3 linked regions of the Homo sapiens genome follow. The protein of the gene in region 1 purifies or fractionates together with the protein of each later gene. This does not show direct contact. Each region holds a gene or a part of one and is shown in the gene's direction. Other genes may lie near its edges.

Region 1 (3,729 bases):
AGGGGTTCAAGACCAGCCTGACCAATATGGTGAAACCCCGTCTCTACTAAAACTACTAAAATTAGCTGAGTGTGGTGGCATGGTGGCGTGGGCCTGTCATCTCAGCTACTCGGGAGGTTGAGACAGGAGAATCGCTTGAACCCAGGAGGCAGAGGTTGCAGTGAGCTGAGTTCGCACCACTGCACTCCAGCCTGGGCGACAGAGCGAGACTCTGTCTCAAAAATAAATAATAAATAAATATTTAAATTTATTTTTTATGTTCTTCCATAGCTGTTTCCCCAACCTTTTCCAGATCTGTGTGACCATCCCTTTTAATTCTCCTTCTTTTGGCAGAAGACTTCATTTTTATTTCACTGAAAACTCAAGGCCTATCATTTTTGTTTCCTTTTTCTTCACAGCCAGATTTTGTTTGTTTCTTTCTTTTTTTAAAAATGAAGCGATGCAGACTTGCTATGTTGCCCAGGCTGGTTTTGAACTCCTGGCCTTAAGTGATCTTCCCACCTCAGTCTGCCAAAATGTTGGGATTACAGGTGTGAGCATGCACCTGGCCCCAGATTTCTCGAATATGAAGAAATCTCCTGATATTTCTGTTTCCTTGCTGCCTATTTGTTCTTAACTCTTTGCAGTCATTATTTCTAGCACTACCCTCTCTCGAGTTGCCTATGCCTTTTTCTAATTGTTTCGTGAATATCTTCACTCTTGGATATACTGTTATACCTCAAATCCAACCTGACCAAAACCAGTATCAGTTTTTCCATCACTATTTCTGTTAAAGGCACCATTATTCTAGCCAACCCAAGGTAAACTTTTGTATCGTTTCTTTTTTTTTTTTTCTTTGAGACAGAGTCTCACTCTGTCGCCCAGGCTGGAGTGCAGTAGCGCGATCTCGGCTCACTGCAACCTCCGCCTCCCTGGTTCAAGTGATTCTTCTGCCTCAGCCTCCTGAGTAGCTGGGATTACAGGCACATGTCACCACGCTTGGCTAATTTTTGTATTGTTAGTAGAGACAGGGTTTCATCATATTGGTCAGGTTGGCCTCGAACTCCTGACCTCGTGATCTGCCAGCCTTGGCCTCCCAAAGTGCTGGGATTACAGGCATGAGTCACCACGCCTAGCCATTTCTTTTTTTAATATTCTAAATATACTTGATTTTTTAGAACACTTTTAGATTTATAGAAAAATTGAGAAGATGCTACAGAGATTTCCCATATACCCTACACTCAGTTTCCCCATTACTGTCATCTTACGTTAATATAGTACTTTGCTTGCAATTAATGAAGCAATATTGATATATTACTATTAACTAGAATCCATACATCATTTCATTAGTTTTGTTTTTTTTTTTTTTCAGACAGGGTCTTGCTCTGTCACCCAGGCTGGAGTGCAGTGGTGCAATCACCATTTACTGTAGTCTTAACTTCTGGGCTCAAGTGATCCTCACATCTCAACCTACTGAGTAGCTGGGACTACAGGTACACACCACCACGCCTGGCTAATTTTTGTATTTTTTGTAGAAATGCGGTCTTGCTCTGTTGCCCAGTCTGATCTCAAATTCCTGGGCTCAAGCAATCCTCACGCCCTGGCCTCCCAAAGTGCTAGAATTACAGGTGTGAACCACCATGCCTGGCTGATTTCCTTAGTTTTTACTTAATTTATTTTTATATTTATTTATTTATTACTATTTTTTTGAGACGGAGTTCTGCTCTTGTTGCCCAGGCTGGAGTGCAATGGTGAGATCTCAGCTCACCGCAACCTCTGCCTCCCGGGTTCAAGTGATTCTCCTGCCTCAGCCTCCTGGGTAGCTGGGATTACAGGCATGTGCCACCATGCCCGGCTAATTTTGTATTTTTAGTAGAGATGGGTTTCTCCATGTTGGTCAGGTTGGTCTCAAACTCCTGACCTCGGGTGATCTGCCCACCTCGGCCTCCCAAAGTGCTGGGATTACAGGTGTGAGCCACTGCGCCCAGCCTTTTTACCTAATTTTTTTTTGTTGTTCCAGGATCTTATCCAGGGTACTACATAACATTTAGTTCTCATGTCTCTTTAAGCTCCTCTTGGCTGTGACATTTTCTCAGGCTTTCCTTGTTTTCCATGACCTTGAGTTTTGAGGAGTACTGGTCAGGTATTTTGTAGGATATCCTTCTATTGGAATTTGTCTGATGTATTTCTCATGATTAGATTTGGGTTATGTGTTTTGGGGAGGAAGACCACAGAGGTAAAGTGACATTTTCATCACATTGTATCAGGGTACATAGTATCACAATGATTTTTTACTGTTAATATTTTTGTTTTTTTGAGACAGGGTCTTCCCTCTGTTGCCCAGACTGGAGTGCGGTGATGCCATCATGGCTCACTGAAATCTTGACCTCCCAGTCTCAATTGATCCTCCCACCTCAGCCTCCTGAGTATCTAGGACCACAGGCGTGTGCTATCATGACCAGCTAATTTTTTTTTTTTTTTTTTTTTTGGTAAAGATGGTCTCACTATGTTGCCTGGGCTGGTCTTGAACTCCTGAGCTCAAGGTATTGTTCCCCTTTGGCCTACCAAAATTCTGGGATTACTAGGCATGAGTCACTATGCCCAGCCTGTTAGTATTGACCGTGATCATCTGGCAGAGATATTGTTTGTAAGGCTTCACTGTAAAGTTAGGCTTTACCCCCTTCCTTTCCATACTGTAGGGAAGTCACTATTGCCAGCCCACGCATAAGGAGTAGAGAGTTGTGCTCTCCTTAAAAAAAGAGATTAAGGGCTGGGCATGGTGGCATATGCCTGTAATCCCAGCACTTTGGGAGGCTGAGGCTGGAGGATTGCTTGAGGCCATCCTAAGCAACATAGCAAGACCTCTTATCTACAAAAAGATTTAAAAAAAAAACGAGCTGGGTAAGGTGGCACACACCTGTGGTCCCAGCTACTCAGGGAGCCTCAGAGGGGAAGATTGAGCCAGGGAGGCTGAGGCTGCATTGAGCCGTGATTGTGCCACTGTACTCCATCCTCAGTGAGAGGCTGTCTCAAAAAACAATTAAAAAAACACACTATTTGGCATTTTTCTGCCCAGGAGATTTTTTTCTTTTCCTTTATTAATTTATGTATATCAATATGGACTTATAGATGTGTATTTTATATGTTAGGTTATAATCCAATACTATTTTATTTGCTTTATTGCTCAAATGTTCCAGTTTTGAACATTGGGAACTCTTTTAGTTTTTTACTTGGCCCATCTCCCTTTGACATTTGCCATCATTGCAGGTATGATTTTGTTCTCTGCTCCAGTCCTGCGGTCTGCCATTTCTCCAAGAAGCCCTTGTTCTTTTTACTAAAGAGTAATGTTAAAAACTAAGATCTGATCACTAGGTGTTTTTATTTCTATGGGAGTATTTTTTTTTATTTATGGGAGTTTTATTTTTTTATGATTATTTTTATTATCATCTTTTACTTCTCTCTTGCCCTCCTCATGTATATCAGTTATCAAAATATCATTCTTTTATTCCTACTGCTGTTACCCTTATCCCATCTACAGTACTTGTTAGCTATATAGCCTTGGGAATCTAAGTCTTAGTTTTCTCATCAATGAAATTGGAATAACTCCTGCAACACAGGATTATTATGCGTATTAAAATTTAAATAAAGTAATTTACATGTTTGGCACATAAAAAGTGTCCAACACATTGTTCTATAATTATTACTATTATGTAAGGGTCATTGTATGGGTTAGAAGAAATTACTATATAT
Region 2 (3,729 bases), on another chromosome or scaffold:
GTCTTTTCAAATATTTTAAAATGTAACAACCATTCTTAGCTCACAGGCTGCACAAAAACAGGTGTCTGCCGCCTGCGGGCTGTGGCTCGCCATCCCCTGTACCAGAGCAAGCTGAACCCACACCGCCCTTGTTGAAGTGTCAAGACCATCTCATTTGAAAGTAATCCTTTTTGTCTCTGAAGGTCCTGCAGGATTTTGTACTGCTTTATAACAGTAACATTCAGTGCTTACGTTGTATTGTACTCCAATTATTTGTGCTTATTTCTTGCTTCCCAAACAGATTCTAAATTTCTGGAAGCTACAGGTGATTTTTAGCCCCCTCACGTAGAATGCAGTATAAATGAGTGCCTTTTACTTACTGGATTCTAAAATGTTTTGAGGGATAAGTGAGTGAATTAAAATACTTGAAGTTGTTTGTAAAGTTTTCCTCCCTTTTTTTTTCTTTTTCTTTTCTTTTCTTTTGTTTTTGAGACAGAGTCCCGCTCTGTTGCCCAGGCTGGAGTGCAGTGGCATGATCTCAGCTCACGGCAACCTCCGTCTTCTGGGTTCAAGTGATTCTCCTGCCTCAGCCCCCCAAGTAGCTGGGATTACAGGAGCCCGCCATCACACCCGGCTAATTTTTGTATTTTTAGTAGAGACGGGGTTTCATCATGTTGGCCAGGCTGATCTTGAACTCCTGACCTCAGGTGATCGGCCTGCCTCGGCCTCCCAAAGTGCTGGAGTTACAGGCGTGCGCTACGGCCCCTGCCCCTCTCCCCCGCCTTTTTTTTTCAAGATTCTTATTTTTGTGTGCAAATTCTACCATTTTCTTAGAATTGCTTGAAGATTTTGAGGCCAATTTATTGGGGGTTATTTTCAGTCTTTCCACAAACCATGATTACAGGCAGTCTTAATAGAATGTCCTTCTAATAGGGACTAGCTATCATTCCTTTAACTAATTATTGCTCTTTGTTTGACTTTTTAACTGTCCTCTCTGAGACACTTGTTTACGTTTAGTCTTCAACACAGAATATTGACAGAACCGTGTCCAATTTTGCAAAGGAGAGAAAGTAGGTAGAGGTCAGGGAATTATGCAAGTATGGGAGAGGGGTCAGAGCGCATGGGAGAAAAGGGTCTGTATCCTCAGCCCCAGGCAGGGGATGTATATTAATAAGGTTTCAGTCTCTTCCATCATGTATTCATCTTCTCCTTCATTCTTTTTCTCTTGAAGTTGATGAATTGAAAATTATTCCGGACTGTGTAAGTACTTTATCACTGGATAAATATAAGGACCCATGAATGGTAATATTTGGACACCACTTTATGTGACATGCAAGTTCTCTCAAGTACTTTAGTACTGTGGAAGTGTGAGATGTTACATTACTACAAAACAGTAATTCTGGAATTAAAATGAAATTATGTCATAGTAATTGGACTTTGATGAACTTTGTTTCATTTATACATTTTAAGAAAGTTTATGTTGGCCAGGCGCAGTGGCTCACGCCTGTAATCCCAGCACTTTGGGAGGCCGAGGCAGGCGGATCACGAGGTCAGGAGATCAAGACAATCCTGGCTAACGCGGTGAAGCCCTGTCTCTACTAAAAATACAAAAAAAATTAGCCGGGCATGGTGGTGGGCACCTGTGGTCCCAGCTACTCGGGAGGATGAGGCAGGAGAATGGCATGAACCCAGGAGGCGGAGATTGCAGTGAGCTGAGATTGTGCCACTGTACTCCAGCCTGGGCGTCAGAGCGAGGCTCTGTCTCAAAAAAAAGAGAAAGAAAAAAAGAAATTTTATGTTAACTTTTTAATATTTTTTAATTTTTTTAGAGACAGTGTCTCACTGTGTTGCCAAGGCTGGTCTCTAACTCCTGGGTTCAAGCCATCCTCCTGTCTCAGCCAACCGAGTAGCTGGGGTTACAGGTGCAAACCACCACCACCAGTTTCGTTTCTTTTTTTTTTTTTTTTTTGAGGCAGAGTTGCGCTGTGTCACCTAGGCTGGAGTGCAGTGGTGCGATCTCGGCTCACTGCAACCTCTGCCTTCTGGGTTCAAGCAATTCTCCCTGCCCCAGCCTCCTGAGTAGCTGGGATTACAGGCACCCACCACCACGCCTGGCTAATTTTTGTACTTTTTTTTTAGTAGAGATGGGGTTTTGCCATGTTGGCCAGGCTGGTCTCGAACTCCTGACCACCCGCCTCGGCCTCCCAAAGTGCTGGGATTACAGGTGTGAGCCACTGCACCCAGCCCCAGTTTATTTTCATACTTATATATACTTATCCCAAGCTCTAGGTATCTCACCAAAAACTTATACATCATTTACAAAATATATTTTTTTCAGATTCATGGTTTTAAATGGTTATAAACTATAACAGATATAGAAAATTCTAAAACTTTATTGAGTGGCTTTAAATAAAACCTAAATAAATGAAGAGCACAGTGGCTCAAGGAGTGGAAGATTCAATATTGTAAATGTGTCAATTTTCTGGAAACTGATTTATAGATCTAATGTAATCCCACATTTAAAAAAATTAGACAAGCTGATTCTAAAACATTTGCCAAGGCCCAAGAAAAGGCAAAACACTTTGAAAAAGAAAAGTTAGGAAAACCTCTGCTAGAGATCAAGAAGAGTTATAATAATTAAGATAGTGTTGGGCCAGGCGCGGTGGCTCACGCCTGTAATCCCAGCACTTTGGGAGGCCGAGGCGGGTGGATCACGAGGTCAGGAGATCAAGACCATCCTGGCTAACATGGTGAAACCCCGTCTCTACTAAAAATACAAAAAGTTAGCCAGGTGTGGTGGCGGGTGCCTGTAGTTCCAGCTACTCGGGAGGCTGAGGCAGGAGAATGGTGTGAACCCAGGAGGCAGAGCTTGCAGTGATCCGAGATCGCACCACTGCACTCCAGCCTGGGCGACACAACGAGATTCCATCTCAAAAAAAAAGATAGTGTAATATTGGCACTGGGTAGGCTAATAATGATGGACCAATAGAACACCATATGGAGTCCAGAAACAGTATTATGCATAGCCAGACACTTGATTTATGACCTGGAGGCATGGCAGAAAGGCAGGCAAAACAATAACACTTTTAGAATTAATATAGGAAGATACTCATGACCTTAGTATAGAGAAACATTTCTTAAACAAGATGCTACAGGCACTAATAGAATAATGGGCAAAAGTCTTGAACAGCCACTTCAGAAAAGGAGAAATCCAAATGTCTAATAAACATGAAAAGGTGTTCAACCATGTTAATGAAGGAAATGCACATTTCAGCCACAGTGCCAGAACACTGTATACCTAAATTAAAGTTGGATGTTGAACAGTAGGGACTTTCATAGATGGCTGGTACAGATATAAATTCATATGACTACCTTGGAAAACAGTATTATCAAGAAAGTCCAAAACATGCATACTTTAATGACCAGCAGTTCCAATATTAGAGAAATGCATGTGCCTGAGAGAACTAGAAAAAGTATTTGGAGTAATTTATTTTCATAATACTGATTCAATTACTATTTCAGGACTGCTGTGTTGTGTTCTGAACACACAGGTAGCTTTGTTTCTAGAACAATGGTGAATAAATGTTATTTATATTTTCCTTCTGTGCTGAATGTTTATATAGTCCATCCAATGTCTTCTTCAGTTCCTAAAAGAATGCTGGAAACAGAATAGGCATTTAATAAGTATTCTTGTGTTTTAAAAAATTATTTGAATTTTTACAATGGGAGCCCTTCATCACAGCTTTGTAG
Region 3 (3,500 bases), on another chromosome or scaffold:
AGCCAGGGCCCTTGGTGACCATAGAACAAAAAAGAAGACTTGGTTTATTGATTCCTGGCATTTTTCCAGACTGACAGAAATCTTTATTTCTAGGGTGGTGGTTTGTTTCTTAATAGTAATAATTTTTAGGGAGTCCAGAATTACCAGTGGTTAGAAGTCTCATTAGATGATTCCCTGTGCAGATTGGGACTGAATTCCTGGGTCTTTTAGCCCCTGTCTGCCCCTGCACCCTCAGCAGATGGAAGCAGCAGGCTGGGAAAGGATACCTGGCTTTGGTGCCTGCGCGGACTATGCTGAGTCACGGGATAGGCAGTGGTCACTAGGGAGGAGCCGCTCTGACATCCGGCCGTGCCGGCTGCTCCTTCACAAGGGGCTGCTGGAAAGAGCCATGGTCAGACAGGCTGGCTTCTGGTTGTACCTCTGCCCTCAGTGCTCACCGTGAGACCTGGACTACGCCACTCTTCCTTGTTCACCAAGGACATGGCCTCTGGCTTATCCCAGCCTCCTCTCCAACCCCTCTTCCTTGACTCTCTCAGTCGTCTCCGTGTCCTCAGGAAGAACTAGAATTCCAGTCCCGCGCCTCTTGAACTCCATCTCCTTTGCTCTGCCCAACAGCTGCCCCCACCCCACGATCACACCCTGAGCCTTTGTATCAACTCCACGTCCCTCCCATACCTTGAGATAACCCCCATCTCCCCAGCCCCGTGGGGCTCACGTGCCTTCTGTACTGGCGTTTCCACATCCCTGCACGTTGATCCTCTCTTCTGCCTGCTGCTCACCCACCACCCCCAGCCTTTGCCCTCCCGGACACCCTCTATGAAAATGTACAGTTGAACAGATCAGGGAGGGAAATGTTACTTGTGGGCTTTTGTAGAACTTTAAGAGAATTTATGTGTTTGGTGCAGAAAGCTCTTAGTTGTAAGAGATCAGAGGTTTCTGATCCTCTGGCAGATTTCTGTTTGAGAATTTATTGGGTGTTGGGTGCCTTGAGGTTTTCAACACTGTGTGGTGTTACTTGACTCTTTGGTAGCTAAGTCATGTTAAAGTGAGACATCCACCTGTGTTTGAGGAGCTTCAAAAGCAGTTCCCTAATGCTAGCCCCAGGAAAATCTCTTTTGGTCCAGTGTGTGTAGAGATGATCAACCTTGATGCAACATCGTGTTTTGTGTGAGATTTCCATTAGTCACATCTCTCTCTCTCTTCCAGTTCAGTGTTTTCTTCCAGTGATAAATTTAGGTCCTACCTGTTGGTGAGGTGGTCTTCTACCAGGCCCTGCTCTCCGTCTGTAGCCATAGTTCTCAACAAGGTCGTCCTGGCATTGCCTAATGAGCTTTAAACAAATGCTAATGCCAGGGTTCTGCCCAAGACCGATTAAATTAAATCTTCGGTCAGGGTCCAGGTATCTATATTACAAAAGGAGAAAAATTTAAAAAAAATTTTTTTTTAATTCCTCCCCAATTGTTGCAGCAGTTATTCTGACGTTCAGTAAGGAGCGAGGGTTGAGAACACGGGGATAGCCTGCCATGCAGCTGTACTGAGAGCTTCTGGCTTCCGGGTCGTGAGTAACCCTGAGGACAGAGCTCCTCAAGTCCTGCCGTGTGTACAGGTCTTCCCTGTCAAACTGCAGATTCCAACTCAGGAAGCCTGGGCGGGGGCTGAGAGCCTGTACATCCCCATCCGAGGAGCCCCCAGGTGATACTGCTGCTGACCTGTGTGCCACACTGAGGAGGTCGCGTCTAGGCAGTATTTTCCTTTTGACATGCCTGCATGTGTGCAGAAAACAGAATCTATTTAAATGTAATCACATTTAAGACAAACAGAGTATCTTTCTATAAAGCAAAATGACCTCTACATTTATCTTTGACATCCTTGTGGATGTTCATATGTTAAGTTTGCTTTTATTGAGGTATACCGGTACCTTCCTTGAGTAGACTATTGCTAAGAAACCTTAACCTTGTTAGTTACAACAGCCCTTATAGTCAAAGGCAGGAGGACTTTGATCAGATTTGTTTGAAAATACAACCTCTTTCGGCTCCCATCCTCAGTTGGCGGGAATGTTGTATGTTGTTGCTTCGCTTGACTCTCATAGCTCCGTCGGTCTGGATTTATATTTGGCATTGCAGAGGCCAAGGTGTTGCTGGAGGTCACCTCCCTCCAGAGTCCTGGAAACCGTGGTAGTGCGGGCCACTAAGGTAGCAGTAGCTCTGTGGGTGCTCTAGTTAGGTGCCGATGCTGATCTGTCTTCAGCATCCAGAGTTCCAGAACGTTGGCGTTAACCATGTTCTTGGCTTGGGTAACAGCATCACCCTTGCAATAAGGGAAGCCTACTGATTTTAATTTCTACAGCTCCTGACTGCCATCGTAGAATTCCAATTTTATTAAGCACCTGTGTGCCAAACCCTGTGCTGGATTTTTCTCATTTCATCCTCACAGCAATCCCGTCATGTAAATATCAGTATCTCCTCTGTAGCAGTGAGGAAACTGAGGCACAGAGAGAATTGTTAGAATGCTCCAAAATGGCACACGTGGGCTTTTAAATCTGTGTCCGTCCAATTCCAAAATCAGCCTTTCTCCGATAATACAGCAGTCCTGCCGAAGTTAATGAACTCTTTCTCATTTAACAAAAAATCTACATTGAAGGGGGTTAGTTAGGCCTTAGCAGCTTCTGTTGAGCTTCACCAGAGACACCAGTGGTTGATGCTGTATCGTAACTTTGTGGGAAAATGATTGGCTGTTGCTATTTTGTGGAAAATAATGGTTTAAATTTCAAAACTTCTTTACCTTACCTGTAGTCAGAGGTGAGCTGTTAGGGGTTGACAAGCATGTGACCAGGTGTCCAGGCCAGCCTGAAGAACGACTTGACTTCCTTATTGGCTGGAGGCTGAATTAAGAAAGAGCTTGAGCATCTGGAGCATAGATGTTGTGTTGCTTGTGTATTTTTTCGTCTCTCTATTGAACTGGATGATCTGAATGTATTTATATCTAAGAAACATCTGCAGCCCTTGATTAATAGTCATGAGGGTTTTTTCTTTAACTTTTTATAGATGAACAGGATGTTGCAAAGATAGTAAAGGGGTTCTGTGTACCCTTCATCTGGTTTTCCCCAGTGGTTACATCTTACGTAACTACAGTACAGCATGATGAAACCAGGAAATTGGCATTGGTACCATCTGCTCATACAGCTCTGTGCCCCTTTATCACATTTGTGGATTGTGTAACCATTATTATCTCAGTGAAGATCCTGAACTATTTCATTACCACCAAGGCCTCCCTTGTGCTAACCCCAATCATAGTTGCATACCCCTCCAACACCGCCCGTGACCCTGACAATCACAGCTGCCGACAGAATCGTCTGATTAGGAGTGGAATATCGTGTGTACAGACCACATGGTCTCTCCGTTTGATGCTGAGGCTGCTCAGATCTGCAGGGGTCACTACCCAGTGCTAAAGGCCGATTGTCGTTTCCATGATCTACTTCCTGCACTTAGCCATGCTCAGTG

What was found.
Region 2: the proteins of PYM1 (region 1) and PRDM10 purify together in Homo sapiens (co-immunoprecipitation; one large-scale study listed by IntAct). This does not show direct contact.
Region 3: the proteins of PYM1 (region 1) and PINX1 purify together in Homo sapiens (co-immunoprecipitation; one large-scale study listed by IntAct). This does not show direct contact.

Annotation. Positions count from the first base shown.
Region 1 is NC_000012.12:55,921,184-55,924,912, reverse strand, and holds part of PYM1 (partner of Y14 and mago), read left to right. Parts: intron 1-1,141; exon of another isoform or gene 1,142-1,472; intron 1,473-3,729. UniProt on the Homo sapiens protein: Key regulator of the exon junction complex (EJC), a multiprotein complex that associates immediately upstream of the exon-exon junction on mRNAs and serves as a positional landmark for the intron exon structure of genes and directs post-transcriptional processes in the cytoplasm such as mRNA export, nonsense-mediated mRNA decay (NMD) or translation.
Region 2 is NC_000011.10:129,992,685-129,996,413, reverse strand, and holds part of PRDM10 (PR domain zinc finger protein 10), read left to right. Parts: intron 1-3,729.
Region 3 is NC_000008.11:10,815,876-10,819,375, reverse strand, and holds part of PINX1 (PIN2/TERF1-interacting telomerase inhibitor 1), read left to right. Parts: intron 1-3,500. UniProt on the Homo sapiens protein: Microtubule-binding protein essential for faithful chromosome segregation. Mediates TRF1 and TERT accumulation in nucleolus and enhances TRF1 binding to telomeres. Inhibits telomerase activity. May inhibit cell proliferation and act as tumor suppressor.